Linked DNA regions of Homo sapiens: region 1 is linked to region 2. The links come from fine-mapping of genetic effects on gene expression. Tissue or cell type: whole blood. Region 2 holds a variant in brackets; the other region holds the start of a gene. All regions are shown on one strand. Distances are between the middles of the regions.

Region 1 (2,680 bases), 85 kb after region 2:
GGGAGGCTGAGGTAGGGGAATCACTTGAGCCCGGGAGGCAGAGGTTGCAGTGAGCAGAGATGGCGCCACTGAACTCCAGCCTGGGTGACAGAGTGAGACCCTGTCTTAAAAAAAAAAATATATATATATATATATATATATAAATATACATATATTAAAATTAAAAATTACCCGAGTGTAGTGGCGCGTGCCTGTAGTCCCAGCTACTCGGTAGGCCGAGGTGAGGATCGCTTGAGCCCAGGAGGTCAAGGCTGCAGTGCGCCTCGATCACACCACTGCACTCAGCCTAGGCAGCAGAGTGAGACTCTGTCTCGAAAAAATAAAATAACAAAATTTATTAAATACCTTCTATGTGCCAGGCACTATATTAGGGACTGGAGCCACCACCACAAGCTAGAGAAGACCCTTGCCCTCCAAGAGCTTAGACTCTAATGAGAGAGTAATACAAATTACAGACTACATGAATGCAAGAAATACACAGAGCGTTGTAGAAAGAGAAAACCAAGGTTACAGAAGGACTCTGAGGAAACTAGCATTTGAGATCTACAAGACAGACCGGGATAAAAGTTGGGGAAGAGTTTTTACAGGTCAGGAATCCTTACCCCAACTTTCCCAAGAAAAGGCCCTAAGGTAGAAAGAACTAGGTTGCATAAGCAAAATGTGCCAAAAGCCTGAGCGACCGAAGCACTTTTGCAGAAGCCCCCCGCTCCTCATCTCCTATCACATCTTCTGCTCAATCAAGCTGGGCCTTGTCGACTTCGGAAAGGCGTTTGGATTTTGTTCTAAAAGCACTGGGAGCCACTCAAGAGTTTTAAGCAGAAGCGTATCTACACTAGGCTTACGCTTTTACAGGACCACTCTGGTTGGCGTGTAGTGAATACACGACTCTCCAATTACTCAGAACAGTGAGTGGCAAAGACAACAGGTCTGGCAATCAGAGAACTCGTGGCCCAGTTAGGGGTGCGATGGTTGGAGCTACTGCGGTCTCTGTGGCTGAGGGGAGGCGCCAGGCACGAGTACTGCGACAGAGCCCCGCGAGTGGCAGGCACCCGGCTGCACTGCAGAGCCGGGGCCAGCCTAGAACCCCGCTCTCCTGCAGGCCCGGGTGTCCCGAGCTGCCCCACGCGGAGGAGTCCAAGTAGGCCCACGCTAGGCTCCTCTGCCGAAACCCTGGTGCCAAGGACACCATGCTCGCTGCACACAGAACCCCAAAGCGACCCCACCTTCCCAGCATACCCAGCGCCTCACCCGCCGCGGGAAACCCTCCGCTCGCCTCCGCTGCTACCACTTTTACCGCGGCCAGCACGCGGGGCGGGACCTCGCAGCGTCGAGGAGCGTGCTGGGGGGCGGGTCCTAAAGCAGAACTGGAAAGCTATCCCATCACACCCCGCGAGCTCCCACAGTGCTCAGCGGCAGCCACTATGGAGGCCGCCAGGACCGCTGTACTCCGGGTGAAGCGGAAGCGCAGTGCGGAGCCGGCGGAGGCTCTTGTGCTCGCTTGTAAACGCCTCCGGAGCGACGCGGTCGAGTCAGCGGCACAGAAGACGTCGGAGGGTTTGGAGAGAGCGGCGGAGAATAATGTCTTCCACTTGGTGGCCACTGTGTGCTCCCAGGTATTGGGCGTGGTGCAGCTGGTGTGGAGGGCATCTTCGGGTGCAGCCGGTACGAAACCCGATCCCTGACCCGCTCGCGAACTCCTGCTTACGCTGGCCTCCGTCCCCTGTTGCCCCCTAGGAGGAACCAGTCCAGCCTCTCCTGCGGGAAGTTCTGCGCCCGTCACGGGACAGCCAGCAGCGTGTCCGCCGTAATCTCCGCGCCTCGGCTCGGGAGGTCCGGCAGGAGGGCCGCTACCGGGTGCTTTCCAGCCGCCGATCCTTGGGGACCACCTCGAGCGGCCAGGAGTCCGAGTACACGCCGGGGAACCCAGAAGCCGCCGGGAACTCGGGCTTTCAGTTGTTAGACCTTGTCCACGAGGAGGGAGAACCTGAAGCCGCCTCTGCAGGCTCCTGCAAAGTGAGTATGCCCCTGAAGGTGGTCGCTGGGCTTCTCAGGATGGTAATGCAAGAAGACTGGGCCCAGTCGCAGCACAGTTTCATCTTAAGGGGATGGATGATCCATCCGGCGTGACGGCCTCATTTTACAGATTTGGTTGTTCATCCAACATGTGTTTACTACGTGCCTACGATATGCCAGGTATTTTTTTAGATTCTGTGGATACAGCAGTGAGGACCTAACATGCAGGTAGACAGAAACAGTAAACAAGTCTATTCAGTGTCAGATGATGATAAGGGATGTAAGGAGGCGGGGAGACAAAGCAGGAAGAGTGGTGCCACTTCAGTGAGAGTGTCACTGAGGAAATGACATTTGAGTGAAGACTTGCAGAAGGTGAATGGCAGGGTATTCCACATATCGAGAGGACTTCTAGGCAGAGAACCTGAAAGTAAAGAGGCCCTTAAGCCGTTTCTTTGCTCCTTGCAAGGTGCCTGGAGCCCGGTGAGCTAGAGGAGAGCAGTAAGGAATTTGAGGGGAGGATGCCTGCTAGGTACTTGCAAGGACATTGCCTTTCACCCTGACTGAGATGGGGATCACTGGAGCAAAATAGAGATAGAGCAGGTAGGAAAATTGATCAAAGAGAGGTTAAAGGAATAGTCCTGGATAGCATATCAAGTTTGAGGTAGAT
Region 2 (2,680 bases):
GACCAAGCAAGGCGTGGAATTCCAGGCTAGGGAAAGGCCCTCCCGGAGAGAGAACGGGACCAAGAAGGAAAGAGGAGAGCTCTAAGGACAGGATTGGCAAGAAGTGCGACAGGAGAGGAGGCAGATGTGGGGCATGGATTTTATCCTGGGGGCCATGAAAGAGTTCTCAGCGGGGAGGGTACCCAGGTGTGTACCTAGAAAGATCACTCTGGCTTCTGTATGGAGAACAAATGGAGGGCGCAAGGCTGAAGGACACCAGGGAGAGACAATGGGCTTGACCGGGGTGTTCCCCATCATCCCTCAGCCCCACAGCAGAACTCTACCTGGTTCCTGCTGGGTTTATACCTCCCAATCCCCACCAGCTCTCTGACCATTCAGATATCCAGGACAACAGTTGATGGATGAATTCACACTCCAGTGTTAAGAACAAATCATGGCAGCATCCACCTTGAATCCCTCTGGGACAGAGGAGGAGGCAGGTAAGAGGGAAGGGTGGTGGCTAGCAAGACTTCCCAACCCCTGGGGTGTTCCTCCCTTACCTATGGGTGCCTCCTGTGTATTAGAGAGCCCCATCGGTCAAAATGCTAACCAGGATGGGGCTGCAGATAAGTCTTGCTCACAGAATCTGTGCCACCCTCTGCTGTGTGACTGAGCAAGTCACTTATGCCCCTCCAAGCCTCAGTTTTCATCTCTGAGTACGGGATCAATAATACCTACCCTCCCCAGGCTGCTTAGGGGATGAAACAAGACGTTGTGCAGGGAATGCTCTGAACACAGTGCCTGGCACACAGTGGGTACCCCAAAACATTTTTTATATAATCATGTTGATGAAGATGATGATTCCAGTAAGCTATAGGCACTCACAACACACACGTGAGTTCACACAGCTTTTAAATTTCAAGTCTCCATCTTGCATTTTCGTTTTGTTTTCTTTTGTTTTACCACAAAGTAGCCTCATTGAGGCAATAATTCAAACAATTGGGAGCAGTTTCTCACAGCTCCTGCTGTGCCCCCTGGTGTGTACAAAGGGAATCGAACCTTCTGGTGATGGACATGCCCGCCTGGCTAGAAATCACTTTATTGATTCCACCGAGGTTCCTGGAATGCCTGTCAGGGACTGGGCCCTGTGCTTGGAGCTCAGGGGGCTCTACGCTGCCAGTACAAAGCCCCAGGGTGTGAGACTGAGGGGAGGGGGTTGGAAGCTTTAGAGCTGAGCCTTGGAGGAGGGGTGTCAGGTGGACCACCAGGGTGTTCCAGACACAGGGTACAGCATGTGCAAAGGCATGGAGGCGTGAAAGAGCATGGTATGTCCCAGGAACAGTGAAAGCTAGAGGTCGGGGCCATCACATCAAATCAGTGGGAGAAAGAGGGGCAGAAACGAGACTGAGGAGGGCAGGGCCTGGTCACTGGGGTCCTCAAGCCAGGCCAGGTAGAAGGAT[C/T]GATCCTGGGGGTAGAGGGAGATCTGGAGATGCTGGACAAGGGCAGAATGAGCTCAGAGCTGCTGCTGGTGGGGATCACAGGCTTCAGCCCAATTAGGAGGGAAGGGGCTCAAAGCAGGCAAGACAGGAGGAGGCCCTGGTGGCGGTGACAGCCACGGAGGGGTTGGGAGTAGGGACTAGAAATGGACTCAAGAACTAGGAGTAATTGGCCTTGACTCTGGACAGGACACTTGGGGCTAAGGGAGGGGCCAAGGACAGAGTAGACAACTAGGGGCTACACCCGCTGAGGCTGGAAGGGCAGGGCTGGGCCGCCCAGGCCAGGCACACTGAGTTGAGGCACCCCTGGGACAGGACTCTGCTCCCTGCCTTCCCTCAACAACTTTCAGTCTGTTTTTCTCTCTTCTTTAACTGCCACAATAGGAAACCAAGATCTTTTTTATTGTTTGATATATTCCTCATTTTTAATTTAAAAAAAAGAGTAAGTGAAATGTTTTCTATTTCCTTCTCAAACAGAAAAGCAACATTACCTATACACATAGTCTCTCATGTATAGGAATGTCTAGATTTTACTTTTCCCTTGATGTATTTTTTTAAGACAGTTTAGGCACCGGGATGAAATTTAGAGCTGTCTGTCACCTTGGTGCTCAGCTAGCTGCCACTCAGGGTCACCCCTTAAGTGGGCCCAGGCTAGGGCGGCCACAGGCCTGAGCTCACCTGCCCCGTCTCAGGCTCATTGCTCAATGGCTTGAGGTGAACTGGGACATGACGGCTATGGGACTGAGATCTTCCCTCAAAGCCAGAGGGCACGCTTTAAACCCTGGAGATGATGACGTTTTGATAAAGTTTAAAAAAACTATTTCACTCTGCAAGACAAACAGCTAATAAAATAGAATCTTTTTTGGTAACCACCCATACACCAATCAATCTGTCACTCGAAAAACTAGTTCCCAAGAAGTGTGAAATGAGGCCACTCTGGAGTTCTGTGGGAACAGAGAGCCCCTGAAAAGCCTTCCTCTCGACCAGATTACAGTTGCCACCCAACAAAGGGAAAATCTCTGATTCTGAGCACAGGAAATACACAGCTAATTAGTTGCTCAATCAATACTGACTTTTGGAAGGTGAGCCATGAGGCTGGGGGTCACTGTTACACTGTTTATGTGCCCCCAGTCCACACTATCACCTATAATCCTGCCTCTTTTTTTTTTTTTTCCAATTCCAGCCCCCTTAGGAAAGATATATAT

What was found. PIP is the estimated chance that this variant, and not a neighbour inherited with it, causes the effect.
Region 1: PRMT7 starts here. The variant in region 2 is fine-mapped to the expression of PRMT7 in whole blood (TOPMed, PIP above 0.99).

Annotation. Positions count from the first base shown.
Region 1 is chr16:68,309,668-68,312,347 of GRCh38, reverse strand. PRMT7 (protein arginine methyltransferase 7) reads right to left here and starts at 1,329. Exons shown (of 19, transcript NM_019023.5): 1 at 1,249-1,329; 2 at 172-306. It overlaps SLC7A6OS (solute carrier family 7 member 6 opposite strand), which reads left to right and starts at 1,402. Exons shown (of 5, transcript NM_032178.3): 1 at 1,402-1,613; 2 at 1,735-2,013. The coding sequence starts at 1,422. RefSeq lists an enhancer at 1,433-2,397.
Region 2 is chr16:68,395,060-68,397,739 of GRCh38, reverse strand. The region is part of intron 1 of SMPD3 (sphingomyelin phosphodiesterase 3); the gene reads left to right. Among named protein-coding and RNA genes, the nearest start is that of SMPD3, 52 kb to the left of the region's middle. The variant C/T (reference allele first, on the strand shown) is at 1,440.